Linked DNA regions of Homo sapiens: all the other regions are linked to region 1. The links come from fine-mapping of genetic effects on gene expression. A gene starts in region 1. Each other region holds a variant in brackets. All regions are shown on one strand. Distances are between the middles of the regions.

What was found. PIP is the estimated chance that this variant, and not a neighbour inherited with it, causes the effect. A credible set is the group of variants that fine-mapping cannot tell apart.
Region 2: its variant is the best candidate, but not a certain one, in a credible set for the expression of COA1 in vagina (GTEx, PIP 0.73).
Region 3: its variant is the best candidate, but not a certain one, in a credible set for the expression of COA1 in whole blood (INTERVAL, PIP 0.88).
Region 4: its variant is the best candidate, but not a certain one, in a credible set for the expression of COA1 in whole blood (INTERVAL, PIP 0.65).

The regions. Positions count from the first base shown.
Region 1 is chr7:43,726,360-43,734,469 of GRCh38, reverse strand. COA1 (cytochrome c oxidase assembly factor 1) reads left to right here and starts at 4,947. Exons shown (of 6, transcript NM_018224.4): 1 at 4,947-5,041. RefSeq lists enhancers at 4,637-4,836, 4,203-4,931, 4,932-5,661.
Region 2 is chr7:43,587,135-43,595,244 of GRCh38, reverse strand. The region is part of intron 1 of STK17A (serine/threonine kinase 17a); the gene reads right to left. Among named protein-coding and RNA genes, the nearest start is that of STK17A, 8.1 kb to the right of the region's middle. The variant T/C (reference allele first, on the strand shown) is at 3,177.
Region 3 is chr7:43,704,880-43,712,989 of GRCh38, reverse strand. The region is part of intron 1 of COA1 (cytochrome c oxidase assembly factor 1); the gene reads left to right. Among named protein-coding and RNA genes, the nearest start is that of COA1, 21 kb to the left of the region's middle. The variant C/T (reference allele first, on the strand shown) is at 4,621.
Region 4 is chr7:43,800,940-43,809,049 of GRCh38, reverse strand. It overlaps BLVRA (biliverdin reductase A), which reads right to left. Exons shown (of 8, transcript NM_000712.4): 7 at 5,203-5,374; 8 at 1,708-2,073. The coding sequence ends at 1,815. Among named protein-coding and RNA genes, the nearest start is that of BLVRA, 46 kb to the right of the region's middle. The variant TC/C (reference allele first, on the strand shown) is at 4,608.

The DNA of each region.
Region 1 (8,110 bases):
AAACATAGCAAGACTTCATCTCAAAAATAAATAAACTGAAAAAAGAACTAGCTCTTTTACTTAATTGATTTCCAAAATTATCTTTATTATTTCATTTTCTATTATTTTTAATTTTCCCCCCAATTTCTTAAAGTGGAAGCTAAAATAATTTAACTTATACTTTTTCTTTTCTTATATTTTTATTCCTTATATTAAGAATGCAATGCTATAATTTTCCTCTCTAAAGCACTACTTTAACTGCATTCAATGCCTTTTGATATATATTTTTATTTTTATTCACTTCAAAATACGCCTGTTTCCTTTACCATTACTTCTTTGACCCATGAGTCAAAATGTATACTTAATTTCAAAAGAAGTGTGTTACTTAATTTCAAAATATTTGTGTTTTCCAGATATCTGTTACTAATTTATAATTATGGTAAGACAAAAAACTTTATACAATTTCAATGTATTTAAGTTTATCAATGTTTATGAACTGGCATAAAAATATTCTACACACTTAAAAGGTGCATTTAGCTATTTATGGAGTGTTCTATAAATATTAAACAGGTCAAGTTGGTTAATAGTGTTGCTCCAGTTTTTTATGCACTTACTGATTTTTTGGTCTAGTTTTTCTATTAATTGCTGAGAGATGAATGTTAAAATCTCCACTACAATTTTCAATTTTTCTTTTCTTTTTTCTTCTTTTTTTTAGATGGAGTCTCACTCTGTCACCCAGGCTGGAGTGCAGTGCTGCAATCTCGGCTCACTGCAACCTCTACCTCCTGGGTTCAAGCAATTCTCCTGCCTCAGCCTCCTGAGTAGCTGGGATTACAGGTGCACGCCATCATGCCAGGCCGATTTTTGTATTTTTAGAAGAGACAGGGTTTCACCCTGTTGGTCAGGCTGGTCTTGAACTCCTGACCTCGCGATCCGTCCACCTTGGCCTCTCAAAGTGCTGGGACTACAGGTGTGAACCACCGCACCCAGCCTACAATTTCCAATTTTTTGAATTGTCCTGTCAGTCTTTGCTTCACATTTATTGAAGCTCTGCTATTAGTTCCAAACAATTTTTTTTATTTTGAGACGGAGTCTCGCTCTGTTGCCCAGGCTGGAGTGCAGTGGCACGATCTCGGCTCACTGCAACCTCTGCCTCCCAGGTTCAAGCGATTCTACTGCCTCAGCCTCCTGAGTAGATGGGATTACAGATGCGCACCACGACGCCTGGCCAATTTTTGTATTTTTAGTAGAGATGGGGTTTCACTATGTTGGTCACACTGGTCTCGAACTCCTGACCTCGTGATCCGCCTGCCTTAGCCTCCCACAGTGCTGGGATTACAGGCGTGAGCCACTGCGCCTGGCCAGATTCATACAAATTTAAGACTGTTATATCTTCTTGATGATCTAACCCAATTATTATAAAATGTCCTTTATTTTTTGCAATCAGCATATTTGAACAGCTACAATTTCCTATAACAAAATTATAGGAGGTGCACATTATTTCCTATAACAAACATGTAGAGCATGTGCTTGGAGTACATGTAAAAGCAAACACAAAAGCAAAAAACAAAAAACATGTAGAGCAAGCATTAACTTTACATTAAACAGGACATATTGTAAGAGATAAATAACTTTTTCAGGGTTAAAAATCAGGATATCACAGGTGAATTTCTTGTAAACAAACTAGGCAGGACTGAATTTCATGCTGGTAGTAAGATAAGCAAGAAAGGACATTCATACCAACCTAGCTAATGTTAATTTTCTCAGTGTCTTTGAGGTAAATACTGTCTAACTTTTACTTATTTTTATGACAGGACATTATGGCACGCTCAATGCTTTGTTTTCTCAAAGCTCTTATGCCAAAATTTTCTTCTTTCTCTCAATAGGTGGATAGTTCCTTAACATGATAAAAGATGTCTACTTCAGTCCTTAAAACCAGCATCATGCTTAATGGGAAAATTCTAAAGATATCTCATTAAAGATAGGAATAAGACATAAAAGTCTACTGTCATTATTATTATTAAATATTTTACTGGAGATACTAGCCAAAACAATTAGATATGAGAAAGTAGAGGTATAAAACTTGGAAAGAAGTAGGTAAAACTATTTCAATGATAAGATTGCAATCTTAGAAATTCTACCAGAATGAACTCCAAACAATAAAGCAACTTAGTAAGGCAGTGGATCACAATATTAATATGCAGGAAATGATACTTTCATGTATACATACAACTACGATGTGTAGTAACCTCATTCAGATTTGATAGTTATAGGATCCTGCTGCTCTTGAGTGAATCTCAAAGCAGCCATTTAACCACTTAACAGTAGCCCTCATACAGCATTATAGTCAGCCCCTCCTCTCTTCACCTCCTACCCCTTCCCTGGCTCCTTAGTTTAAAAGTATCAAAACAGACCCTTTCTTTAAATATATAGAAAAAGAGAGGTAGAATGTGTATTTTGATGGGTAATTTTGGCTATAAGAAACAGAATCCCTGACTTAAGGTGAGTTAATAATAACTAAAATTTATTAAGCACTTAAAATACTTACAATATGACCAGCACTATTTTAACCCATTTAATCTTTATGGCATCTCTATCAGAAAACAGTAAGGATCCCAGCACTCTGGGAGGCCAAGGTGGGTGGATCACTGAGGTCAGGAGTTCAAGAGAAGCCTGGCCAACATGGTGAAACCCCTTCTCTACTAAAAATACAAAAATTAGCCAGGCGTGGCAGTGCATGCCTGTAGTTACAGCTACTTGGGAGGCTGAAGCAGGAGAATTGCTTGAACCCGGGAGGCAGAGGTTGCAGTGAGCTGAGATCATGCCACTGCATTCCTGCCTGGGCGACAGAGTGAGACTCAGTCTCAGAAAAACAGAAAACAAAAACAATAAGGAAACTTATTAGACATTCCTACAAGGCATTCAGATACAGGGTGAGCTCCAGGTTTGGAATGATGTCACCAAGGACATTGTTTTATAACTTGTTCAGTTGTCCTCAGCATTGGTCCATCAGTTTTATTCCTTGTGATGGGCAAGATGGCTACTAATGACAGTGTGGGATAGATGTTTCGACGTCAAGAGGACAGTATATCAGAAACTTTCTCCTGAGCATGAAATAGAGGTCCTTTCCTTCAGTCAGATTGCGCCAACCTGGGTCATATACTCGTTCCTTGATTAGCAACTATTTCCAAAAAAATTCTGTGTGAAGACTGGTTTAATCAGTATCATTTTGATTCTGGGAACAGGGCAGCTATCTGAATAAAATAAGGATTTTGGTACAAAGGAGTTAGAGGAAAATGAATATTGGATAGGTAACATTATTCACTATAGAGTTTTGTTTTTAATGTAAAATTTAGACGACAAAAAAATTCTGTGTGATGACTGGTTTAATCAGTATCATTTTGATTCTGGGAACAGGGCAGCTATCTGAATAAAATAAGGATTTTGGTACAAAGGAGTTAGAGGAAAATGAATATTGGATAGGTAACATTATTCACTATAGAGTTTTGTTTTTAATGTAAAATTTAGACGAAAACTTTAGCAGATTTAAGTCCAGTGATAGAAATGTTAAGTTCTGAGTTTTCAAGCAAATGGTCAGAAAAGCCTATTTAATGTTTTATTACTTACAAAGTAAACATATTTCTCTTTCTGGTACAGAACGGGAGCTAATTGATCTCGGGTTCATTTTCATGAACGTTGTATGAAATGCACATATACCAAACCTCATAAGCTTTTTATTAGTTGATTTATTCTTTGAAATATTAAGCTTGGTGTAAGGTATTATAACCTCAATCTCTTTGAAAATGTAATAAGTCAATAATCAATGTTGCATCAATGAATATTACTCAGTGGATGCCTATTTTATTTCTTCTTTTTCTCTAAGAACCATTTAAATAGTCCTTATGGCCGAGCACTTCACAATCTGATTAGTTTCTATTAATTCTTTGGAAAAGAAACATTCTGGGAAGTCAGAATTCAGCGGTAGGTTGCTTTGATAATGTGCTCATTTAGCTAGTGGATTCCAGAGTGATAGAATGTATGTTTGGCAACCTAATTGTTGTGGAGGAAGAAAAGAACTTCTGTTAGAAGTTTTTAAAAAAGTTTAAAAATTGTTTTTACCTCATCAAAAGTTTGATGTCTTGTGAGTTTTATAGCATGCATAATATATTAATGCCATACATGACACATGTAAATATATATATATTTTTTCTGATAGGGATGTGTGAGCAAGAGTTTAAAGAAGAATGCCCCAGTCTAAAGTTAATTAGTCTTGGAGTGATGGCTTCGCAGAGGAAAGATACTGGATTTCAAGCTTGACATTAAGGTGATAATAGTGGTGACTATGGAATAATCAATATAAAAATAATAACAGCTAACAGTTACTGAGCGCCTACAAACTGCCAGACACTACTCTAAGTGCTTCACATCCTCATAACAAATTTATGAGGTAAATGCTATTATTATCCACCAGCCTTCTGAAATTTTCTTACCCCGTTACTCCCTGGTGTTAACTGGGTACTTAATTTGTCGAATAAAATAAAATTTAGTGCTGCCAAATTTGTCAGCTGAACGGGGCGGCAGGAATTTCAGTGCTAGAGTGGGGGGCCAGACGGCCCGGGGCTTCGTGTCCTTGGAGGCCAGCGGAAGCGCCGCATACCTGTGAGGAGCAACGTGAGCCGGTGGCTTATATTTCCTGGGCTAGTGCTACTGGACTGAATGCATTTGCAATAACCGGACGCAGAAAAAAAAAAAAAAAGCGGGGACCAGGGGAGGCGAAACCCTTCCCGGCGCGAGTCCGAGCGTCTGAGAAGCAGAAGCCACACGTCCCGGCGACCTAAGTTCTGGATCAGCCGGCCGGAGGACCCGTGTTAGCATTTACAATCCGAGGTGAGCTGAAGCCTCCGGTTGTCCCGGTTCGACGCTCTAGCCCTGCGAGCAGCCGACGCCGGAAGTCTCTACTGCTCCCCGCTGGCGCGCAGGACCGCGGGCATTTACCCGTGCTTTCCCAAGCCTGGAAGAACTCGTCATGCTCTTTGTAGCGTGGTGCTTCTGTTGCTCACAGGTTAGTCTCCCGCGGTATAAGAGTCTCCGTCTTCCCCCCAGCAAGAAGCGTTTGTTCCTGCAATTCGGGGGGCCGCCTTTGCGCGCGGGGTGCGCTGCTTCTTGGAGAGTTCCCTCACGGGTCACATCGCGGAGGTTCGCGCCGGCGCCGGGTCGCGGCCTCCCTGCGCAGCTTCTTTGGCACCTGGTAACCTTCAGTGGCTCCGTCCGCTCGGAGTTAGGAGGCTGTGTCGAGCTAACCTTGACCTTGTCCTGCAGTTTTTGCTGACCATCCCCAACAGCACACTGTAAAGAGTTAGGGTCCTCTCGAAGAGTTGGGACTGGGCACTTTTGTTGGTAGTGCTAAATTTCAACACCCTGAGGAGTACGCTGCCCAAATTATTGTAGGAAAGAATTACCTGGTTTAGTGGTTATAATACTTTTTGTCCCCACCACACTTGAATAACAGAAAAACCCTCCCAACAGGGGCTGACTGCAAAAGTGATTTTCTGTGTAGGGGACATTGGATGTATTTATGTATATATCAGTGCCTATCAGTCTGTATGTGTGTTTGGGGGTGGATGCTGTGTAATTTAAAAAAATCTATGGAGATTCTGATAATTTGATAACCTGTTTCTCCGGTCTTCCCCTGATTCCTCCCCATTCTCCCCGGAGGGCTATTGCTTTATTTCTGAGGTGGCTCACGTTTGGATAGAAGTAGCAACTCTCCGCTTACACCTGCACGTTTAAAACGCATATCAGATTGTGTTATTTCTGTCCTCAGAATCTTCCTGGCCTTCCCGTTGCTTTCAGGATAATACACATTTCTTAGCCTAACTTCAAGGGCCTACAGGGTCTTGATTCTGCTGAGTTTTTCAGTCTTTGCTACTTTCATGGAAAACACACCTGCAGGTACACTCATATTATGCTCCCACCATGCCAGTCTACGGTAATTTAATAACTTTAGATATGGCAAAGTTTTATATGGTTTACTCAAGTTTTAATTTTTGTTCTAGCATTTAGCCAAAATCGATTGAATTCATAATATTGCTAGGCACTGTTTTAAAAACGGGATAAAATGAAAACAAAACAAAACACAAAACAAAAGTCTTCAGTCCTTTAAAAAAATAAAACAGCTTCCTGACACATAGTTCACCTACCGTAGAGTTCACCATTTAAAACGTAGCGGTGCCTCACGCCTGTAATCCCAGCACTTTGGGAGGCCGAGGCGGGTGGATCACGAGGTCAGGAGATCAAGACCGTCCTGGCTAACACGGTGAAACCCCGTCTCCACTAAAAATACAAAAAATTAGCCGGGCGTGGTGGCGGGAGCCTGTAGTCCCAGCTACTTGGGAGGCTGAGGCAGGAGGATGGTGTGAACCCGGGAGGTGGAGCTTGCAGTGAGCCGAGATTGCGCCACTGCACTCCAGCCTGGGCGAGAGAGCTAGACTCCATCTCAAAAAAAAAAAAAAAGAAAGAAAACCTAAAAGTAATTAGTACATTAGTACATTCACAAAGTTGTACAACCATCATCATAAAATATGCTGTAATCTTCTTCACCTTCATTAGTTGGTTTAATTTTCTATTTCAGACAGACTCCAATAAGTTATTCTTGTATTCTTTTGTTCATGTTTAATATGCTGCATTCAGTTTGTGAGAGCCATATTGGAACAATTGAACATTTTCATCACTCCAAAAGGAAACCCTGTACTTATTCAGCAGGCTCACCTGACTTCCCCATCCCCACTCCCCATTCTAAGCCCTAAGCAACTATGAATTGACTGACTGTATATTTGACTATTCTGGATTATTCATGTGAGTGAAATCATACAGCATGTGGTCTTTTTCAACTGGCTTCTTTTACTTAACATTCATGTTCATCTGTGTTGTATTTAATAGCATGTGTCAGTACTTTTTTTTATTGCTGGTTAATCTTTTATGGGTATTACCACGATTTATTTTCCATTAGTTAGTGGACGTTTGGATTGTTTCCACCTTTTGGCCATTATGTGTAATGCTGCTGTGAACATTCACCTACAAGTTTTTGTGTGGACATCATGTTTTCATTTCTCTTGCGTATGTGCCTAGGAGTGAAATGGCTGGGTCATATGGTAGCTCTGTTTAACATTTTAAGAAATGGTCAGACTGTTTTCCAAAGCATCAGTGTGCATCTTTTTAACATTCGCACCAGTAGTGTATTAGGGTTTTGATTTCTCACTCCTTGCCAACACTTGTCATTATCTGTCTTTCTGATTCTAGCCATTCCAGTGGGTGTGAAGTGTGTGTCATTGTGTTTTCATTCTTTTTCGTTGACATGTAATAATTGTACATATTTAGGGACTACAGAGTGATATTTTGATAAATGTATACAATGTGTAGTGATCAAATCAGGTAATTAGTATGTCCACCACCTGAAACGTTCATCTTTTCTTTGTGTTGCGACCATTAAAAATCTCCTAACTTTTTGAAAATATTATGGTTTCAAATCGTATTTCCCTGATGGCTAATGATGTTGAGCATCTTTTCAAGTGCTTATTGCCCATTTATTTATCTTCTTTGGAGAAATGTGTACTCAGATCCTCTGCCCATTTTTAAATTAGGTTCTTTTTTGTAATTGAGTTGCAAGAGTTCTTTATATATTCTAGATACAAGTCATTTATCAGATATGTGATAGTCTTTTAGATTATGCTACCGTTCTTTTAAATGAAAAGCACATGAGATTAATTTTTTGTAGCCCTGGAGACCTCCTTATGGGTATGTGGCTGTGGTTTAGAGAGTGATGGTTTTCCAACAACTACGTGGGAGGCCAGGCCCAGGAAAAATGCTGTGAAAGAACCCGTGAGGAGCATTTTAAGACTTGAAAAATGAAGCAAGGAAAAACTTTATAATTTGCCATTCCGTATGGAGTTTTGTCTTTATTGATTTTTAGGAGTTCTTTGTGTAGGGATTTAAGCCATTGACTGTTAGATATGTGGCAGATATTTTCAATCTATTTAGTTAACTTTGTTTTATATTTTTTACTATATTGTTTTACATTTTTGTGTAGTCAGGACTTTGCCTCTAAAAGCCTTCTGGCTAATAGTTTAGGATA
Region 2 (8,110 bases), 140 kb after region 1:
TTGGTCACCAGAATCCCTAATATGATGAATTTCACTGCACTAATTGACTCTAAAGAGCACTATCACTTTCTAAAGGTAAGGATCTCACTCATTTATCATTTTAACTAGAGCGTCAGCTAGAAATGTATTTTCTCATAAAGACAGATACAACAAAGTGTTATATTGATACATTACTATTTGTCATTACACTAATAAGTGGGTAAACCAGGGACTCAGTATAGCATACTGATTAAAAGTATGAGCTCTGGAATTAAACCTATGTGGGCTTGAACCCTATAAGTGGCACTTGACAGTAACCTTAGGTGGTTTATTTAACCTCTTTTAGTTTCATTTTTCTTTTCTTTTCTTTCTTTCTTTTTTTTTTTTTTTAAGAGACTGGGTCTCTCTATGTTGCTCAGGCTAGTATTGAACTCCTGGCCTCAAGTGATCCTGCTAGGATTAAAGGCATGAGCCTCCATGCCCTAAGTCTCATTTTTCTAATCTGTATAATAGGGACACAAATGGCATCTACTTCACAGGGTTCTAAGAATTAAAGAATAATATATTTCAATTGCTTAGCATGGTACTTGCCACACAGTAAGTGCTCAATAAATATTACTAATCACACAAACATCATTAAGCTGTGATAGTCATCACCCGTAAACATCCACTGAATCCTTAGGTTGAAAGACAACTTAGAAATCATACAGTATTTTACCTAACACCAAATGCCAATGTCTTATTTCAAACTGTGAGGTAATCTTTTCCACTACTGGGTACATATTATCTTAATAAGGTCTTCATTACAAGCCTAAACCTGACTTCAGTTGAAGGGTTACAGTCAGGGTCCTCTGCTGAGCAGTACAGACCAGACCTCACTCTCTTTTCCACATGGCAGTCTATCAGATACTGAACACAGCAAACACCATCTGTTAGCTGCCACTCCCTCTTCCCTTTCCCAATTTGCAATCAATCCCCATCCCCATGGGTTTTTTTTTTTTCCTTTAAGAGACAGGGTCTCACTCTGTTGCCCAGGCTGGAGTGCAGTGGCACCATCATAGCTCAATGCAGCCTTGGACTTCCGGGCTCAAGTGATCCTCCCACCTCAGCCTCCTGTATAGCTGGGATTACAGGCACATGCCACCATGCCCACCTCCCCATAAGGTTGACTCCCTATTATGGCTCAGCAGAAAATGTGCCAACCAAATCTGAAGCAACTAATCCAGGTATAATCGATCAAAGCATTACATCATTATTATTTTTGTTGCTCCTGGAACAATACAACCTAAGATTGATTGTTAAAAAACTTGACATGTTTTCATATTTCAAATTGGGCTGATAAACTACCTAGATTTTTTTCCACCTTGAATTTTTATCAAGTCAGTATCCTCATACTATATTTTAAAAATGATTGCTAAAAAATTTGGAATAATCAACAGCATAAACAGACAACCTACAGAATGGGAAAAAATATTTGCAAACTATGCCTCCAACAAAGGGATGATATCCAGAATCTACAAGGAACTCAAAAAACGAGAAAAAAAAACAACCTCATTGTTTTTTTTTTTTATATGAACAGACATTTTTTCAAAAGAGCAGCAAACAAACACATTAAAAAATGTTCAACATCACTAATCATCAGAGAAATGCAAATTAAAATCACAATGAGGTACTGCTTTACAGCAGTTGGAATGGCTATTAGTAAAAAGTTAAAAAACAACAAATGTTGGCGAACATACAAAGAAAAGGGAACGCTTATACACTGCTGGTGGAAATGTAAATTAGTTCAGCCACTATGGAAAGTAGTTTAGAGATTTCTCAAAGAACTACCATTTGACTTGGCTATCCCATTACAGGGTATCTGCCCAAAGGAAAAGAAATTATTGTATGAAAAAGACACCTGCACTCATATGTTAATCACAGCCCTATTCATAATAGCAAAGATACCAACCTAAGTGTCCATCAGTGGATGACTGGACTAAAAATATGGTGTGTATATGTATCATGGACTACTACACAGCCATAAAAATGATGTCTTGTGCAGTAACATGGATGGAACTGGATGTCATTATCCTAAGTGAGATGACTCAAGCAGGAAGTAAAAAACTGCCTGTTTTCACTTTTAAGTGGGAACTAAATGGATACACAGGCATAGAGTGGAAAAACAGACCAAACAGTAAGAGAGTGGGAAGGGGGTGAGGAATTAAATACTACCTATTGGGTACAATGTACGCTATTTAGGTGATGAGCACACTAAAAGCCCAGACTTCACCATGACCCAATATATCCATGTGACACAAATGCACTTGTACCCCTGAATCTATTTTTTTAAAAAGCTTTCTAAAAAATTAAGTGCAAGGCTTTAATTGCCCTGTTAAATTCTTTTTTGTTGTTGTTTTTGAGACACAGTCTCGTTCTGTCACCCAGGCTGGAGTGCAGTGGCACGATCTCGGCTCACTGCAACCTCCGCTTCTCGGGTTCAAGCAATTCTCATGCCTCAGCCTCCTGAATAGCTGGAATTACAAGCACATACCATCATGCCCAGCTAATTTTTTGATTTTTTTTTTTTTTTTTTTTTAGTACAGATGGGGTTTCGTCATGTTTGCCAGGCTGGTCTCGAACTCCTGGCCTCAAGTGATCCACCCACCTCGGCCTCCCAAAATGCTGGGATTGTAGGCATGAGCCACCATGCCTGGCCTGCCCTGTTAAATTCTAACTTCTAGGCTTTGATCTAGCATTCTAGACTACTGACATAATTTTGAGTAATTCTTCCTTCCCAGCTATTGTTAACTGCAAATATAATTTTCATGTCCTCCATGTTTTTATCATTAGTAATATAAATGTGGAATGACAAATCCTTAAGCATAGCCCTATGGCTGTTCAATTTGGTAACAACCTACCTAGCAGCACCCTTATTCAGATAAAAGTTCTTTTGTTCACAGAAATATGAAAGACTTCTACAGATATGGGAGAGAGTAACTATAAATGAATTCCTCAAAGAGTAATTAATACCTTTCATTTTATCCCACAAAATCATTAGGCTAACATCTCCATCAAGTTTTAAAAGGTTCCCAATGATCTCTGAATTCTTTTAAGACAGAAAACAATTGTTATTAATTTGATATTTTCATACCTACATGTCTGAAGTTTCAAGAGAAGAGAAAGTTTAATTTGTAAAAAATTCGTCTGAAATGAAG[T/C]CTCAACATATAATTGGCAGCAAACATGTTCCTGGTAAATTAGAAATGACTCAGTAGAACGGCCCTCAAACACATATCACACACACAAATGTTTACTGTTGCCACACCTGACATTCAAAGCAATAAAGTACTGTGCAGTAAGTAAAAAACTACTTATTACATAGCCTGAAAGTCTATTTTTAAAGACCAAATGGAAAGACAGCTAATTCAGCAAACAGAATTGGAACTCAAAATTATGTCAGTAGTCTAGAATGAAAGATCAAAACCTAGAAGTTAGAATTTAACAGGGCAAATTAAACACGGACTCACACACATTGCTAACCTGTGAACTGTGGGAGCCCTGTTACAGAACAGCCATTGCTAAATTCTGGGGCCTCTTCCCCATACTTATTCATCTGTTGCTCATGCTCCTCACCCATTCCTTTAGGTGCTAGAATGCAGTTCCCACGGCTCTCCTTTCATATCAATGACTACACTGACACCACCTTTGTTTTTCTGGAAACATTCCTCACAGTTCTAGATTTATTCTTTTCTTTCCAACATATCCTGTACTATACTAGGGTCAGCAAGTTTTTCTGTGAAGGGCAAGCAAGATGGTAAATATTTTTGGCTTTGTGGACCAGAGGGTCTCTGCAGCAATGACTCAAGTCCACTGTTGCAGAACAAAAGCAGCCATACAAGAAAGGTAAATGAATGGGTATGTTTGGCTTCCAATGAACCTTTTACACTGAAATTTAATTTCATAAGCTTTTCATGTTATTAAATATTACTCTTATTCTAATTTTTTTAACTATTAAAAAATGTAAAACATAAAAAATGTAAAAACAGCTTGCAAGGCTTTCAAAAATAGGTGGCTGGCTGTAGTTTGCTGACCCCTGCTCTATCCTATGCTGAATAAAACTCTTCCATCATTCTAATACCACATACCACTGAAACTGACATTATGACAGCAGGTCGCAATGATTTGAGGAAGCATGCATGCCTTCATCTCTAAATGACTGGTGCAATGGGAGGGGGACCCTTCAAACCACTCAAGGAGGAGTCAGAGAAGATAATAACGGATTTCTTGGAGCTGTTCTACACAGCCACATTGTATAAAGAAAACAGGAGATTCAGCATTCAAGCTGCAAAGTCCCAGTGTATATGCTCAGAATTACATTGACAGAGTTCCCTAAATTCCATACCTCAAAAGGGCTCCAACATGCATATTTTACCATGACTTTATGGTAAAAATTGTGACTGTACCTCAACCTTTAACTTTAGGTTATTGAGTCCTCTACAAAACATTTTAAAAATGATGTTTCCCTGACATTATGGGCCATGGTTATATACAGCTCTCTTGGGGCTGATGAGGTCCAAAGGGCATAAGATGTTTGTTGCACATCTACTTTTTTTGTTGACTCAAAAGCCAAACTTCTTCCTGGAATAAACAGTTGCCATAATTTTCAGGTATATTTTTTCATTTCAAAAACATCTATATTTTGCTAATAGGTACAAAACTGAGAACTTAGGTTTTCATTAAATATTTTGGGATGAATATCAGAAATGAATACATTTCAGAACTACTCACTGAAAACATATTCCAGAGAGGTGGGAAAGGTAAGATACATAAACAATTATAACAAGAGGAGGTGACATTTGATTGAGACCCACCAGTCCGAGCTCCCTAAGTCCTTTGCATTATCAGTGCCTAAAAACACTGCTTAGGGAGACAGGGTGAGTATCTTTAGGTAGGTATGTTTGCTAAGGAGTTTGGGCTTCATCAGGCTTAAAACTGGAACCTATTAGAATACTGAAAATAATTGTTTAGAAAAGATAATTCTGGTTGGGCACGGTGGCTCATGCCTGTAATACCAGCACTTTCGGAGGCTGAGGTAGGCGGATTGCTTGAGCCCAGGAGTTCGAGACCAGCCTGGGCAACGTGGCGAAATCTTGTCACTACAAAAAATACAAAAATTAGACAGGCGTGGTTGTGTGCACCTGTGGTCCTGGCACTTGAGATGCTGGGATGGGAGGATCAGTTGAGCCTGGGACATCTAGGCTGCCGAGATCATGCCACTGTACTCTAGCCTGGGCAACAGAATGAGACCCTGTCTCAAATAAAATAAAATAAAATAAAATAAAATAAAATTAAAATTAAAATTAAATAAAATTAAAATAAAATTATAAAATAAAATAAAACAAAACAGGTAATTCTAATAGTGTTGTGAAGAGTGGATTGCCAGTGATAACTAGAAACAGAGAGGCCAATAAAATAATTCAAAGCAGTAGGTCTGCACTCAAGTACCAGCGTAGGGACTGGGAAGAGAGAATATGTTTAAAAGACACTCAAAGTCAAGATTTATTAGCACTCCCTGGCAGGTGTGAGTTGTACGCAGAGATGAGAGGAGAAAGGAAAGGTGAAAGTCATGGATGACTTTTAGATTTTTAATATAGGTACTGTGTAAATGTGGTACCAGTTATAGTACTGTGTAATGTGGTAGGAGTTATAGTTGGACAGAAGGTTGAGCTGCCTTTTTTGGTAAAGAGAATCCCATTTATTGAAGGGATTCCAAATACAAATTCAAGTGTTGGATTATAAGCAAAGGTGAAGAGATAATAGAATATATAACATTCAGGTAAACATCAGAAAATGCACATGCTAATTTGAGCAGTACAAAGGGGAAGTAAAATAATGTCCAAGGTCCTGTTTTATTCTAGGTTAAAGTGCTTTGTTTATACCTTTATTATATTTATGTCAATCTTATATATTACAACTTGTTGTACTATGTCTCCCAGCTGGACTGTGAGTTTCAGGGACCTCACTTATTCTTCATCTTTTTATCTCCATAGTGCCCTGCACATGGCAGGTGTGCAAATATAATCAGCACACCTAGTATATATACTGCTTATTATTTTGTTAAATAAAAGTTTTATGGCAACTTAACCTCATGACATTTAATATACTGGACTACTTGCCATTCTCTCTTCACTGAATTTTTCTACTGCTCTGACTTGCTGTTTTATTGACAATGGCAACTACTACTGAAATTCCATCCATTCTTTACAGCCCAACTGAAATGTTATTTCCCCCATAAGACCTTCCAGTGGCATATCATCTTGCCTATAAAGGGGACAGTGATTGATCTGTTACATTTGGGAATAGCTTCCAGAGCCTAAGGTAGTGCTTTTATGTACTTGATACATAAGTACAGTATTTGCCTAATTACACTGGAGTGATGTCTTTTTTCTTTTTTTGAGACACAGTCCCACTCTGTCACCTAGGCTGGAGTACAGTGGCACTATCTCTGCTCACCACAACCTCCACCTCTCAAGTTCAAGGAATTCTCCCGCCTCAGCCTCCCAAGTAGCTGGGACTACAGGTGTGTGCCCAGCTAATTTTGTAATTTTAGTAGAGATGAGGTTTCACCATGTTGGCCAGGCTGCTCTCAAGCTTCTGACCTCAAGTGATCCGCCCACCTTGGCCTCCTAAAGTGCTGGGATTACAGGTGTGAGCCATGTCTTAAACGTAAAGAAGTTCCATTCAGGAAAAACCTAGAATGGATTTTGTCTTCCTTATCGCTGAAAGGACCAAGGAAAAGACCCTAGGCGTAAAAATCAGTGAGTCCATTCAAATAAGACATTAGCATGCGTGATAAGAAAAGGCAGGGCCTTACAAGTCAAACTTGGTTTTAAATTCTGGCTAACAAGTGTGTAATACTGGGCAATTTATTAATCCTTTGGAACCTGGGATTCCTCATCTGTAAAATGAGATCAATGGCACTTTACCATACAGGGCAGTGAAGACTATACAAAATTACATCTTTAAAGTGTGTAGCATTCAGCAAATGATCAATAATCAGTGGCTATTTTTATTGTTTTTGGCATTAATTTCAGATCTATGATATAACCAATGATAATAATTTAAAAAAAATATCAGAACAGGAGTTCTGGAGGTGAGCTATTAAGTCTACATAATGTGTAAATTCTCTCAAGAAATCTAGTTAACTTCTTACTTACCTGAAGAGGTGACTATAGCTACTTAGCTTTCTAATGCATTTGGTTCAATAATCATATTTTATAAAATTGTGTCATCTATGGTTTTATGAAAAGATTAAAATTCAAATTCTTACATTCATGTATTTTAAATTAAGATTTTAACATTTGAAGCATGAACTTTTCAAAATTAAACAGCTGACTGACTTAAAGTACCTGCCTAAGAGCAGAAGCCATACTTTCCAAGTAACTTTATTGTTGAACCACAAATATGGCCAATTTTCTTTTATCTATCCAAAGTATCAGATTACCCAAAACTGTTTGTAAATAAAATTCTTCAAACTAATGACTAGCTGTCAAGAAATCTTAAATAACATCTGTGTTAAAACAAAGCAATTTCTGCATGGATATTACTTAATAAAGGTCTTTATTTGTTAAAAAATGATAACTTATGACACACGCTTAAGTTCTTGTCAGATACAAAAACTGAAGCTATTACCTACAGCCATCAATCTAGGTAAGGACACACAGTCCCCAAAATACCCACCCAGAGTCCCCTTTCAGTTTGAATATTCTCTTATTCTCTGATAAAAATCCTCTCTTGTCCCTATTACCCCTGACTGCTCTGAGGAGAATGAGATAGGACATCCCTAATTTACTTTAAGGCCCCAGTGGGAACTTAACTATATGACACTGAAGCTTGGTCATGTTTGTTCCAATGTAGAACTCATTAACAGATCCTTTCCCCTGTCTCTACTAAAAATACAAAAAATTAGCCAGGCATGGTGGCAGGCGCCTATAGTCCCAGCTACTCGGGAGGCTGAGGCAGGAGAATGGCGTGAACCCAGGAGGCGGGTCTTGCGGTGAGCTGAGATCGCGCCACTGCACTCTAGCCTGGGCGACAGAGCGAGACTCCATCTCAAAAAAAAAAAAAAAAAACAAAAAACAATAAAAACATA
Region 3 (8,110 bases), 21 kb after region 1:
AGAACGAGACTCTGTCTCAAATAGCAAAAGAAAACAAGACAAAAAAACCATATATATGTATTTAAACCTCAAATTGTACCCCTCAAATATATGTAATGACAATGTGTCAATAAAAAAAAAAGTCCAGCTAGAAAATGAAAAAAGTTTAAAACATGATAGTGGAAATGAAAATCTTTGGAAGGTTGTAAGATAATGGTCAGGAAATCTCCTAAGAAGTAGGCAAAAAGACAGAGGACACTTAGCTGACTGTTCCTGAGGTTCAATGTTTATACAGTTGAGTTGCAGATAAAATAGGGGAAATGAAAAGGTGAAAATAATTCAAGAAAACGACCAACAGTAGAAGATTGAAGTTTGCAGATTGAATGTGCCTGCCATGTGTTCAGTCTAATAAATATACCCACACTGGGGCCCATCATTAGGAAATTTCAGGACACCGTGTGGTAAAGAGATGATTCTGGAGTGAAAAAAACCCAGATCACATATACAGGATCAGGAATCAGAATGACTTTGGATTTCTATGTAGCACCCTGGAAGTGTGAAAGCAGTGAAGCAATGCCGCCTTCAAAATTCTGGAGGAATATGAGTGTAGTGGCTCACACCTGTAATCCCAGCACTTTGTGGGGCCGAGGCAGGTGGGTTACCTGAGGTCAGGAGTTGGAGACCAGCCTGGCCAACATGGTAAAACCCCGTCTATACCAAAAATACAAAAATTAGCTGGGCATGGTGGTGGGCGCCTGTAGTCCCAGGTACTCTGGAGGCTGAGGCAGGAGAATCACTTGAACCCGGGAGGTGGAGGTTGCAGTGAGCCGAGATTGTGCCATTGTACTCCAGCCTGGGCGACAGAGTGAGACTCTGTCTCAAAAAAAAAAGTTTCTTTTTCCCTGGAGGGATAGAAGAAAAACAAAAGAAGAAAAGAAAAGCAAGGGAATGATTAAATCAGGATAATAGCTACCTCGGTGGAGGGAAGGGGATGGGATCAGGGTGTCTTAATGTCTTGGTAAAAGTCCGTGTTTTAATAGGGGTAGTGGACACTTGGGAGTTTATTGTTATTAGTTTCTCTTCGTATTCACACATATATTTTATATATTATATGTTCAGTCATGTGCCACTTAGTGACATTTCAGTCAGCAGTGAACTGCATAGATGACACTGGTTCCATAAGATTATAGTACTATATTTGTACTGCACCTTTTCTGTGTTTAGATACACAAATGCTTATCATTGTGTTATAATTGCCTACAGTATTCAGTACAGTGACATGCTGTACCTGTTTATAGCCTAGGAGCAGTAGGCCATACCATACAGCTTAGGTGTGTTGTAGGCTGTACCATCTAGGTTTGTGTAAGTACACGCTATGATGTTCACACAATGATGAAATTGCCTAACTATACATTTCTTAGAATGTATCCTGATTGTTAGGTGACACATGACTATTTGATACATGTGAAAATACAAACTTTTTAAAAAGCAGATTCCCACCTTTTGACTCAATGGATCAGAGATTCTCTTTCTCTCTCTCTCTTTTTCTTTCTTTTGACAGAGTCTCGCTCTGGCCAGAGATTTTCTAAATAATGGTCAGGAATCTGCATTGTAAGTCTTACTCTTTGGTAAGAATATTACTGTAGTTGATCTGTTGTTCTTATTGTGTTATCTAGTATTACTGATGTGGTATGATGAGCACATAATAAAGTGGGTACATTATTTCCCTACATTGAGTTAACCATGCTCTCTTATATATGTATATATGGAAATTGTTGGTCTCTGATTAGTTACACCCAGGTGTATGCTAGTGACCCTTATTTTTTCATGAGCCTTTAATACCCTCATTTTAATTTCTCTCAGAATATGTTAAGAACCAAACCACAAGATTTCTGCTGTCACTGCACTGAAATTGTAAAAAATGTGGGATGGGATATTACATGTGCTCTAACATGTATTAAGGATCCAACATCTTTTTACAAAAATGAAAAAAAAAAACCATCAACAAATACAGTATTGTTCTTAAAGATTGCTGGTTGGAGCAGTTATCTCAAAAGGCTTCCATGTGACTTGCTACATTTAATGACAATGAAACCCTGGCAGCTGCTTATTGTTTTAGTGTCACTTGTATATTCCCTGGTGGAAAATCTAGTTTTTCAGCTCAGTTGTGAAACAAATATCACAGATACCAGCACTGTGGTGTTTTGGAAAGGGCTTAGCACCTGAGGTTTCAGTTAAGATCTGATATCCAGTAATTTATTTTTCACTTTGGACAAGTTTACCTAACCTTTCTGAATCCTATTGTTTGTTTGTAATTTGGTTCACCAGTAATACCTATTGGAGTTGGGAGAATAAAATGAGATAGTTTATGTCAAGCACCTGCTGCACTGCCTAGTTGTTAAAGAAATATTATTTTCCTTCTGTAAACATCCTTTACTCAAGCCAGACATCTGGGAATCATCCATAAATCTTTTCTATTCTTCACCTACCAAAGAGCTATCCATTTCATCTTCTTAGTAGCTCTAGAAAGGGAATGAGACATGACCCATATTTTATAACATTGGGCTTTAGGCAGTAACTATTAATAAATCAACTGTTTAGGACATATCTTAAAAATATATATATATATATATATTTTTTTTTTTTTTTTTTTTTTTTTTTTGAGACAGAGTCTTGCTCTTTCACCCAAGCTGGAATGCAGTGGTGTGATCTCAGCTCATGGCAACCTCCTCCTCCCAGGTTCAAGTGATTCTCCTGCCTCAGCCTCCCAAGTAGCTGGGATTAAGGCATGTGCCACAATGCCTGGCTGATTTTTGTATTTTTAGTAGAGGCAGGGTTTCACCATGTTGGCCAGGCTGGTCTCAAACTCCTGACCTCTAGTGATCCGCCTGCCTCAGCCTCCCAAAGTGCTGGGATTACAGGTGTGCGCCACCGCATCTGGCAACTCATAATAATTTGAGTTGGTGTTGGAATAATGCTCATTGTTATTTTTACTTTCATTTATTTTTATTTTTAGGCTTAACATTTTCATGTGTGAGTTTAGCCTTGCAGGATGTTAATAGTGAAAAAGTGTGCACTTTGCACAGAGACATTTCTAGGTTCAAATCTAAGTTTTGCAGTCTTAGGCCCTCAGGCAAGTTAGGTACCCCTTCTAGGCTGGCTTTATGATATTTTTTAAGTGTGTTAATAAGATTTAGTTACGGGCTATCACATCATTAAAAGATAAATTTATATGACAGTGCAGAAGGCCAAGAAGAGCCAAGATACTCTTCAAGAATAAAGTGGGACAATTTGTTTTATCAGATATGAAATTAAAAAAAATAAAACTGGATTAACAAAGACAGTGTTATATTGGTGCAGGGATACACAACAGTCTTGGTTAGTATAGTAGATTGGTGGGACAGAATAAGTAATACAGAAATAGACATGTGAATATGTAGATACTTAATTTGTTATAAAGATAACGTGCAGAACGGTGACAATATATTTCAGTAAATAGTGCTGAAGCATTTTATATATATGCATGTTCATGCGTATACACACACACACACACACACACACACACACACACACACAATAAAACAAAGTGAATCAAGACCTGTATCTCATATTACACCCCAAATGAATTCTCAGTGGATTGTAGATCTACCTGTGAAAGGCAAAACAGTAAAGATTATAGGAGATAGGCCGGGCATGGTGGCTCACACCTGTAATCCCAGCACTTTGGGAGGCCGAGGCAGGTGGATAACGAGGTCAGGAGATTGAGACCATCCTGGCTAACATGGTGAAACCCCGTCTCTATTAAAAAAAATACAAAAAATTAGCCAGGTGTGGTGGCAGGCGCCTGTAGTCCCAGCTACTCGGTAGGCTGAGGCAGGAGAATGGTGTGAACCTGGGAGGCGGAGCTTGCACTGAGCTGAGATCGTGCCACTGCACTCCAGACTGGGAGAGAGAATGAGACTCTGTCTCAAAAAAAAAAAAAAGATTATAGGAGATAATATAGGAAAATATCTATGTGACCTTACAGTATGAAGAGTTTTCTTAAATGGACACAAAAAAGCATTAACCATAAAAAATGATATATTGGAATTTATTAAAACCAAGAATTTCTGCTTATCAAAAATCATGTTTAAGAGAGTGAAAGGCAAGCCAAAGAGTAGGAAAAGATGGTTGCAACTCTGTGACAAAGGGATTATGTATAGGATATGGGAAGGACTACAAATCAGTGAGAAAAAGGCCAGTAGAATAATGGTAATAAAAGATAAGAGAGAAAAAGACAAGCCAATAGAATAATGGGTAAGAGAGAAAAAGACAAGCCAGTAGAATAATGGGTAAGAGACTTGAACAGGCACTTCACCAAAAAGAATATCCAAGTGGCCAGTAAAAATAAGAAAAGGTGCCAAAGAGCACAAATCATTAGAGAAATGCAGATTAAAATCATAATGGCATATAACTGTTACACACCTGCCAGAATACTAAATAGAAGGATTAATAATGCAGAGGGATTGTGGGAATATGGAGCAATGGAGCAAGGAATTTTTTTTTTTTTTTAGAAAAGGTCTTGCTTTGTTACCCAGACTGGAGTGCAGTGGTACGATCTCGGCTCACTGCAGTCTTGACCTCCCAGGCTCAAGCAATCCT[C/T]TCACTTTAGCCTCCTGAGCAGTTGGGCCTACAGACATGTGCCACCACACCCAGCTAACTTTATTTATTTTTTGTAGAGATGAGTTCTCACTATGTTGCCCAGATTTGTCTTGAATTCAAGTGATCCCTCCGCCTCAGCGTTCCAAAGTGTTAGGACTTTTTTTTTGAGACGGAGTGTTGCTCTGTTGCCCAGGCTGAAGTGCAGTGGTGTGATCTTGGCTCACCGCAACCTCCGCCTCCGGGGTTCAAGCAATTCTCCTGCCTCAGGCTCCTGAGTAGCTGGGATTACAGGCGCATGCCACCATGCCTGGCTAATTTTTGTATTTTTAGTAGAGACGGGGTTTCACCATGTTGGTCAGGCTGGAAGTGTTAGGATTATAGGCATGAGCCACCATGCCCAAGGAAATTTTTTTACACTGTTGGATATAACCACTTTGGTAACCTGGCAGTGTAGAAGCAGAATGTATGCATGCTCTGTGACTTTGTAATTTTACTTCCACAGAAATGGTGGGCATGTGTGCGTTGAAGTAGTGTGTATAAGAATGTTTATAGCACCACTATTTGTACTAGCTCAAAATAGTTGTGTGGGGAGATTTCCATCAACAGTATAGTAAGTAAATTATTATACATTTCAAACGTGGACTACTGTACTGTAATGAAAATGAACAAACTCAATTTACACAATATGGATGAACCTTAAAAACATGATGTTGAACAAAACCCACACACAAAAGAATCCATACTACTGTATATGATTCCACTTAAATAGATTTTAAAATCAGACAGTACAGAACTAGAATGTTAGAAGTCAAGATGATAGTTACCTTTGGAGAGGAGGGAGGGGTTAATGATTGGAAAGAAGTGGGAAGGAACCAATGGGCTACTGGCAGTCCTCAATTTCTAGGACTCTGGTGGTTACATGGGTGCTTGGTTTGTTTTAATTCATGGGGCTGAACATTTATGTTTTGTGCACTTTTCTTTGTGTGATAGACTTTTAAAAAAAAGAACCACTCAGTTTTTAATACCCAGTAAATATTCAATATGAGATCTTCCTCCTCCTCCATCTAATTTGTAAGTATTTGCATATGCCTTTTGCCCATTAATTTGTTTCAGTCTTGATGTTGTATTTATTAATTTGACTGAACTCTTTAAAGATTACTAGAGACAGTTTTAGCCAGCAAGGCTTTGCCCTTGAAAATTCACTCAGGCTGGAGTGCAGTGGCGTGATCTTGGCTCACTGCAACTTCAGCCTCCTGCAACCTCAGCCTCCTGGGTTCAAGAAATTCTCCTGCCTCAGCCTCCTGAGTAGCTAGCTGGGATTACAGGCACCTGCCACCATGCCCGGCTAATTTTTGTATTTTTAGAAAAGATAGGCATCTCCATGTTGGCCAGGCTGGTCTTGAACTCCTGATCTCAAGTGATCTGCCCACCTCAGCCTCCCAAAGTGCTGGGATTACAGGTGTGAGCCACCATGTCTGGCTTTTTCTTTTTCTTTTTTTTGAGACAAGGTCTTTCTCTGTTGCCCAGGCTGGAGTGCAGTGGTCCTATCACAGCTCACTGCAGCCTCAGCCTCCCAGACTCAAGCAATCCTCCCATCTCAGCCTCTCAAGTAGCTGGGACCTCAGGCATGCACCACCATGCCCAGCTAATTTTTCTATTTTTTTGTGGAGACAGTCTTTCACTATGTTGTCCAGGCTGATTTTAAACTCCTGGGCTCAAGTGACCTGCTGACCTTGCCCTCCTAAAGTTCTGGGATTATAGGTGTGAGCCACTGCACCTGGCTGGGTTTTTTTATTTTTTTATTTTTTTATTTTTTATTTTTTAAGATGTGTTCTTGCTTTGTTACCCAGGCTGGAGTACAGTGCCATGATCTCGGCTCACTGCAGCCTCCGCCTCCTGGCTCAAGTGATTCTCCCACCTCAGCCTCCTGAGTAGCTGGGACCACAGGTGTGTGCCACCATGTCTGGTTAATTTTTGTATTTATTTATTTATTTTTTTGTAGAGATGGGGTTTTGCCATGTTCCTCAGGCTAGTGTTGAATTGAGCTCAAGTGATCTGCCTGCCTCAGCCTCCCAAAGTACTGGGATTACAGGCGTGAGCCACTGCGCCTGGCTTGGATTCTAATATTAATATATACTTTTTTAGCTTTTGAATCAAAATGCTCTAAGTATTTGTGTAAAAGAGATTTTTTTTTTCCAGTAGTGTAGGAGATGAAAACTTTACTTTTATTCAAGTTATGAAAATTGCTTTCATGCTTTATTCTTTAACAATAATTTTGGACAAATAGCAAGATGGCTATCTAGAGGCAGCTAGGAAGAGCCTCTCCCACTGAGACCAGGCCATCAAGTAGGCCAGCACACTCTGAACAGATCTTTGGAAAGAAGGCATTGAGAGTGGACAGAGGGAGGATGCAGATACCAGGCTGAAAGGGGAGGAAGCTGGAAACCCTGCACAGGGTTGCCAAGCACCACGGTTTGTCGGTTTGTCGCTGGCCCTGAGTCGCTCCTAGGGATGGGGTGAGTGAAATTGATGTGGAGTGGCCCACTCTTGCCGCGGACCTCTGGGAGCCTACCTGTGGGAGACCCCATGATTCTCATGAACATCTGAGCTGGCAGGAAGAACTTCCTGGAGAGTTGACAGAGATGGAACTCTAGCCTGCATGGAGCCCAGAGGGTTTGTTGTGGGAACAGTTGCAGTGGAGCATGGCTGTGGATATCCATAACACCATACTCCTCTAGGCAGCTCTAGCCTTTGTTGGCTGCCAGACCTGGACAATAGAGGGCTGGCTTGCTTGTGGAATGGGACCAGTCTGATCTGAGGACCTCCCCCAACTGCCCGTTGCTGGCCTCTGTTAGGGTCCCTCCCTGCCTGGCTGTACCTGCTTGCAGCACAGCCTCAGCTTGCCAGCAGCCATCACTATAGCTTTTTGCCATAAGACCGTATCTGTCCATTGGAGTGCTTTTGCAAATGGACCCAGACCCCTGCCAATGTGCACCTGCCGGTAGCCTTCCCCTGCTGGCACGTGCCCACCTGCAGCCTTCTCCTGCCAGTGTGCATTTGCCCACAGCTTCCCCGTGCCACTCTGCAGGCATGCATGTGCGTGGGAGCCTATTGCTGCCCCACCAGAGTTCTTTTGCTGGCAGCTGCCATCGGAGTGTTGTTGCCAGTGGACCGGGAACATCTCAGCTCCTTCAGAGCAGTAGGTACTTAACCTCAAGGAGCCAGAAAATAAAGCCACAGGCCTGGTCCCAGCACCACAAGGATTAGAGCATGTAGCCCAGGAGTGCTCTGTTGAGCCTTGGCCTCCTGAAAGCATCCACAATGAAGCCAGTTGACTAAACCAAACAAATATTAGTCAAACTTTCAGGAGCATCAAAGAATATAAAAAGCAAGAAGTCCCATGCAAAAAGTAACAACTTCAAAGATTACAGGATATCAGCCCACACAGGTAAGAAAGAACCAGTGCAAGAACTCTGGCAACTCTAAAAGC
Region 4 (8,110 bases), 75 kb before region 1:
CCTCGAAGTCCTGTGTTCGGATGCCACTATGCAGAGCACCCGATCCTGTTGCTGTTTGGGGTGCCACTTGTAACCTGCATGGACCTCGGGGGACTGAACAAAGGGGGGCGAATGTGGGAATAAAAGACAAGACACAAAAGAGTATATTTGGAAGAAGAGGTCAAGGGGCATCTTGCCTCTAGTGGACAAGGGCCGTGAGCTTTACACAGCCCTCTGTATTTATTAGGTGAAAGAGACAGCAAGAAAGTGGGAGGATGGTTGTCGGGTAATTGTCAGTCAGCCGTTTGGTTCACAGCGGGCTTGTGAACAATAGGCGCTAGATTTCTCAATAGATAACTTCCAGGAGCCCGGCGCCAGGGCATGATGTCCCTCAGCAAACATTTTGGTGGCAAGGCAGTGTGAGTTTGCCCACATCCTGCATTCATGATAAACAGTTCGCTGTTTGATCATATAGCCTCCAGCGGAATGCTGAGTTGGTCACGTCCCGCGGGCCTTTGGCTCCCTGCAGGGTAACTCTGTCTTAGGATAACTCTTAGGCTCCACCTTAGGGTAACTCTGTCTTAGGCTCTTAAACTCTTAGGGTAACTCTTAGGCTCTGTCTTAGGGTAACTGTCTTAGGCTCTGTCTTAGGGTAACTGCCCTGTCTTAGGGTAACTCAATTCTTCATCACAGCTGCAGGTCACCTACTTGCAGAGGAAGAGTCTGCTTTAGTCACCTGCCACGTGGACAAGCTTGGGTGCATCCTAAGGATGTCGGTTCAGAGGGAGAAGGTGGCTGGGTGTCATGTGTTTAGTCCCTTTTCCAGCTTCACCAGACAGGCAGGTCACTGCTGCCACAGGGAGAGGGGCTGAGGGGCAAAGGGCACCTCTGTGGTCACTCTTGCCTGGAGACACAAGGCCCTCCTGAAGGACCCCTCAACACTTAGGAGCATTAGTACAGCGGGATTAAGGGCTTTTTTTTTCTTCAAATTGGACAGAGGGACAGACTGCTGAGGAATACATGTGGATTCTTTCCTTCTGTGACACTCTGAAAGAATTGTGACTGGGGCATGGGGTGCCACCTTCAGAGGCAGGAGTGTTTAGGAAATGCCACAGTGGCACATGACCTGCGTGGGCTCCAGCAGCAGCAGCAACCTGCAGGGTAGATAGGGCAGCTGAGAACACGAGAGCAGAAGGGCGGTGACTCTATCATCTCGGAGGGTTCTGTTCAAACAACATTTTCTAGTATACAATGAAAAGAGACCTGGTGCCAGGCATGGTGGCTCATGCCTCTAATCCCAGCACTTTGGGAGGCCGAGGCAGGTGGATTACCTGAGGTTGGGAGTTCGAGCGAGACCAGGCTGGCTAACGTGGCGAAACCTCATCTCTACTAAAACTACAAAAATTAGCCAGGATTAGGCACGCGCCTGTAATCCTCAGCTCCTTGGGAGACTGAGGCAGGATAACTGATTGAACCCAGGAGGTGGAAGCTGCAGTGAACCGAGATGGTGCCACTACACTCCATCCTGGGTGACACAGTGAGACTCTCAAAAAAAAAAAAAAAAAAAAAAGAGGCCTGCTAGTACTCATCTCATAGGGCTGTTAGGAGGAGTAAGTGAAATCAGACATACAAAGCATTTAGCTCAGCTCAACCAACGCTCATTCTCGCCTTGTCCCCACTGCATAGCCCCTAACCCCAAATATCCCAACATAGCTCATAACAATAAGATTCTTGTTTCCCCAACATGTTTAATTTTAAGAATAGAGATAATGGTCAACTCTTGAGAAGAACCAAATGCTGGTGCCATCTTGGAAGTGCTACATCACCTCCTCCTCTTACTTCCTTGAACAGCAATATTTCTGGATTTCTTCTGCAAGCCCCAGGCAGTGCAGGATGCGTTTCTTTTCAGCAGCCAGTTCCTTCTCAGAGAACTGGCCCAAGAGTTTCTGGACAAATATATTTTGATCTTTCAGAAATATGTTCTTATTCACTCCTACATTTGGCACATTCTCCAAGGACCCAGACTTGAAATGGAAGCTTAAATATCTGTTTCGTTTTAGACCAGGTCCTTTTTCTTCAATCCATGACAGTGGACTGCAAAGACAAAAGACAAAAGAATCATGTTAGAGATTACACAAGAGCACAAGTGGGTGCTTGCTGGCACCAGACCGCCTGGTAACATGTCCTTGTCAGGCACCCATCCTCCTTGCAGCCACCAGCCTCCCAGAGGCTGTGGGTGACTGTGTCAACCTCACAGCCAAACAGTCTTTAATTTAATTTTGCCATCAGGCAGGGGAATTCATTCAGTGACTTTTTTTTTTCTGGGATGGAGCCTTGCTCTGTCACCCAGGCTGGAGTGCAGTGGTGCAATCTCGACCCACTGCAACCTCTGCCTTCTGGGTTCAAGCAATTTTCCTGCCTCAGCCTCCCAAGTAGCTGGGATTACAGGCGCCTGCCACCATGCCTGGCTACTTTTTAAAAAAATATTTTTAGTAGAAATGGGGTTTTGCCATGTCAGCCAGGCTAGTCTTGAATTCCTGACCTCAAGAGACCCACCTGCCTTGGCCTCCCAAACTGCTGGGATTACAGGCGTGAGCCACTGCACCTGGCCTCCCATGACTAGTTTTAAAAGCTCATAGTACAGTCTAGCAAATGTTCTGGGAGATGGCAACAAAGATTAACTTTTATTTTGGCACTGAATAAAAATAAACTTGAGGTATTCTACGTAGTCTGCCTAAGAAAATTTCTCATGTCTTTTTTTTGAGATGTTTGCTCTTGTTGCCCAGGCTGGAGTGCAGTGGTGCAATCTCGGCTCACTGCAACCTCTGCCTCCAGGTTCAAACGATTCTCCTGCCTCAGGCTCCCCAGTACCTGGGATTACAGGCACCTGCCACCACGCCTGGCTAATTTTTGTATTTTTAGTAGAGACAAGGTTTCACCATGTTGGCCAAGCTGGTCTTGAACTCTCAACTTCAGGTGATCCAACTGCCTTAGCCTCCCAAAGTGCTGGGATTACAGGCGTGAGCCATTGTGCCCGGCCTCTCATGTCCTTTTAAATAATATGGAATCTTGGGATTTGAGGGAATGCAGAATGTCAAGATCTTTCTTGTACCTCAATTTCCTCACTAGTAAAAATAAGTAATGGTAATAAGTATACAGCTTTACCTATCTTGCTGTGACATTGTGAGATAAAAATGCAGTTTGTGGCCAGGCGTGGAGGCTGATGTGGGTGGATCGCTTGAGCCCAGGAATTTGAGACCGGCCTAGACAGTATAGCAAAAACCCATCTTACCCAAAAATACGAAAATCAGCCAGTCTCATAACCCGGTCTCAAAATAAATAAATAAATAGATAAAAAAATTTAAAAATGCAATTTGGGACACGGAAAGTACTATGATTTTAAGAAGTTACTATTATATTATATTAACTGCTCTCTGTCCCAATCCCTCATCTGATGCTTGCCTCTCCTGTGCAAAAATGAGAGCCAGGGCTGGGTGCAGTGGCTCATGCGTGTAATCTCAGCATTTTGAGAGGCCAAGGTGAGCAGATCACTTGAGGTCAGGAGTTCAAGACCATCCTGACCAACATGGTGAAACCTTGTCTCTACTAACAATACAAAAATGAGCCGGGCGTGGTGGCAGGCGCCTATAATCCCAGCTACTCGGGAGGCTGAGGCAGGACAATCACTTGAACCCGGGAGATGGAGGTTGCAGTGAGCTGAGATCACACCACCGCACTCCAGCCTGGGTGACAGAGCAAGACTTTGTCTCATAAAAAAAAAAAAAAAAGAGAGAGAGAGTCAGCCTCTGCCTCCCCAACATCTTGCTTCCTCATTGACTTCTACTCAACTTCAAGACCAAACAAGGCACCGCCTCCCATCAGAACCATGAGCTGACCTAGTCCAGGTTCCCCTTCCCTGTGCTCCTACAGCACCCTACAGTATCTTTACCTCTAATTACAGGGTGCTACAACTGTCTGTGTATAGGTCTGACCACGGCTGCAATCCTAACACTCACATGGCCACACCAGAGCCCGGGCCACCACTGTTGGTCACTCCATAGGGAGCACTGCCAAGTTCCATGTGCTTTGCTTTCATCTGCCAGGCCTCTCTGCCTTTTCCTAGCGAAGAAGAAACTCCTCAAAATGGACTAGATCAGGCTTCATTCAGGAACTCAAATTCTTTTTTCTTTTTAAAATACCCAGTGTCTGCTTCTTTTACTACCAGGAGACCCACCTCTCTGCAAAGGCATCCAGAAACACTCTAAAACCCTTACTGTTCTAAATAATTTACAGAGCCCAGGTGCTTTGGGAGGAAAATTATGAATGTGCTTTTGTTAAAAAAGACCTGGTATGAGAAATAAGTCAGAATGTTTTGGGAACAGTGTGACAGGGTGATGGGATGCTAAAGCTGAAACACAGACCCTCACACTCTGGCTGCACTGAGGGGTGAATGTGTGGCCCTGCGGGGAACATGTACAGTGTTAATGGCAGGGTCTAGGGAGTAGGTGGATGGGTGTTTACTTAAAAATTCTTTCAACTTCACAATATGCCCGAAAACTTTCATAAGAAAACACAGGAAAAAAATCAGGTCACAGAGTTAACATAATTTCTTTTTCTTTTCTTTTTTT[TC/C]AAGAAGGAGTCTCGCTCTGTTGCCCAGGCTGAAATGCAGTGGCCTGATCTCAGCTCACTGCAACCTCTGCCTCCCAGGTTCAAGCAATTCTCCTGCCTCAGCCTGCCAAGGAGCTGGGACTGCAGGCATGCACCGCCACACCGGCTAATTTTTGCATTTTTAGTAGAGACAGGGTTTCACCATGTTAGCCAGGCTGGTCTCAAACTCCTGACCTCAGGTGATCCACCACCCTTGGCCTCCCCAAGTGCTGGGATTATAGGCCTGAGCCACCACGCCCAGCCAAGGTAATGTAATTTCCACTACTAATCTGCTATGAATGACTTGCATGACTTAGGCAACCTGCTGGCATTCTGTAAGCCTCTGTCTACTGACTGGCAGATGGGATTATGTTTGTCTTCTTTACCTCACAGGGCTGCTGAGAGGATGAGATGAGGCAACACAAGTGCAATCTCAGCACTCCATCTGCAGAAGCAGACAGCCCTTCTGGAGCTGGGAGTGAGGGTCTAGCCCCTCGGGGCTCCCTTTGGATCATACCTGCAAATGTACTAGGATGTCCTTAAATTTCCTCCTCCTCATGGCTTCTCATGACTTACCTTTTCTTCTCTGTCTCCAGACACACTGTCATTTTCATATACTGATCTTCCTTTCGCTCTTCCAAAGTGGCAGACACAAGAGAAAGCTCCCCAAAGAGGGAGACCAGCCAGGTCAGGCGAGAGATGCCGCTGAATGCAGGGAAGCCAAACCGCTCTTCTTCCAACGGGCCAGCTGTGGGAAATCACAAATGCTGTGGGAACTGGGAAGCAGGAATGCCAAGTGGAAAGCAGGACAGGGGGGTGGGGGTGGCGGGGGTGTGAAAAGATGTGGCCGAGTGATCAGTACAATGGGACCTTGCCTTATGTGGTAGGCAGGCAACGTGATTAATGATACTGATGAAAACTCAGGTGGCTGAACTTCAACTCTATCATAAAAGCATCTCTGTCTTTTCCTGTTTATTAAATTGAGTTTTAGTAAAACATTCTACTGGAAACAGCAGTCAATCCAGCCAAACAGGATAATAAAAAAGTTTCAGGCTTCTAATATATACATCTATGTACACATATGTAGATATACATACACACACACACACACACAACACATACCTACATATACATATATATATATCCTCTTTAGTGATTTAAAGTAGTCTGGTAAAAGTAGAAGAATCAAAGTATTTTAGCCCTGCAAGCCTGTATTCTTATAACTACCTGATGTGTAAGTGGCAATAAGGTATGAAGGTATTATAATAGCTATGGAGAAAATGGTAATACCTTTGAGCTATTTCAATATCAAGAAAATTGATACAATGTTAAATGTTTTCTTAGTCTTCCTAATCTTGTGAACAAAAAAGTACACTCAAAAGAGTATTGGGGCCAGGCGTGGTGGCTCACGCCTGTAGTCCCAGCACTTTGGGAGGCCAAGGTGGGTGGATCACTTGAGTTCGAGACTAGCCTGGCCAACATGGCAAAACCCCGTCTCTAGTAAAAAAAAATACAAAAATTACCCGGGCATAGTGACGGGTGCCTGTAACCCCAGCTACTTGGGAGGCTGAGGCAGGAGAATCACTTTAGCCCGGGAGGCAGAGGTTGCAGTAAGCCTAAAAAGGCCACGTACAGTAGCTCATGCCTATAATACCAGCACTTCGGGAGGCCAAGGCTGGCAGACTGCTTGCGCCCAGGAGTTCAAGACCAGCCTAGGCAACATAGCAAGACTCTGTCTCTACAAAAAAACACACAAAATTAGGCGGGTGTCGTGGTGCACACCTGCAGCCCCAGCTACTCAGGAAGCTAAGGTGGGAGGATCATCTGGGCCTGAGGAGTTCGAGGTTACAGTGAGCCATAATTGTACCACTGCATTCCAGCCTGGGTGACAGAGTGATACCCTATATCAAAAAAATATATATATATAAACATAAAAAAGAGTATTGGTGTGAGAAATCCATTTGGTCAAGATACTGCTCCCGTCTGCCTCCAGCCAAAATCTTAAACATAACCTAAGTTTAAAAGACTTCATATCTGTTACATTACATTATAAACAAAACATTTCTTATGACCTTGATATTCACTTAAAACAATGACTAATAACAATGAGTATATTCTTAAAAAGTAATAAGTTATATATAAAACCAAACAAAAATTAGAATTTTCATAGACAATATGGTTTGAAATCACTGGGGCCTAAGTATCAAACTTACAAAACAAAAAGACTTCCCCAGGGCTGGTTACTGTCTGCTCTAGTTCTTTTTTGTTTGTTTGTTTGTTTGTTTTTGAGACAGAGTCTCGTTGTCACCTAGGCTGTGCAGTGGTGCGATCTCGGCTCACTACAACCTCTGCCTCCTGGGTTAAAGCGATTTTCTTGCCTCAGCCTTTCAAGTAGCTGAAATTACAGGTGCGTGCCACCATGCCCGACTAATTTTTGTATTTTTTTTTTTTAGTAGAGACGGTGTTTCACCATGTTGGCCAGACTGGTCTCAAACTCCTGACCTCAGGTGATCCACCAGCCTCAGCTTCCCCAAGTGCTGGAATTACAGGCGTGAGCCACTATGCCCAGCCTAGTTCTTTGGACAGAATACTAAGCAGCCACCCACAACAGTTCCAGCCACTTAGAGAGCTGAGCTCCAATCCAGCTCTGTCTCATGACCGCTACGTTACCTCTGTGAAGCCACTCATGCCTCTGAACTTCAGTTTATCTGTATAATGGGGGTAGTGAATACCACTTTATAGGATTGTCATATGGATTAATGCACATCACAGTTACTTGTACTTAACTTACTTAACTTAACACAGTTTCTTGTACAAATTAATGGTTTGTACTCTCATTATATTACCATTTTCAAGGATGAAGACAGATTTTGAAATGAGGTTCTACTATGTATCAGTGGCTTTACCGTGCAAAAATGCCAGGCCATGTCAGGGTCTCCTTTCTGTAATGAAAGCCCTCAGGAATGGTGGCCCAGGTGCCCAACGATACGGCCAGAGAAGGAGCCCATCCAAAAGTGGCCACAAGAGCAGGAGCTTCCTGCATGCCCATTTCCTATTGCTAACGGAGCTGCTCAAAGAGTGACCAACATCAAGTAAACAGCTACAAATACAGATCAGATACTGTGGTCAGCTGGGCACGGTGGCTCATGCCTGTAATCCCAGCACTTTGGAGGCCAAGACAGGTGGATCACTTGAGCCCAGGAGTTTGAGATGAGGCTGGGCAACATAGGGAGACACTGTTTACACAAATTTTAAAATTAGCTGGGTATTGTGGCGCACATCTGTGTTTCCAGCTACTTGGAAGGCTGAGGTGGGAGGACTGCTTGAGCCTGGGAGGTTGAGGCTACAGTGAGCTATGATTGCACCACTGCACTCCAGCCTGGGCAACAGAGTAAGACCTGGGCAACAGAGTAAGAACAGAATAAGTAAATATTTATTATTTATTATAAATAAATAAATAAATACTGTGGTTGCTGCCAATGTC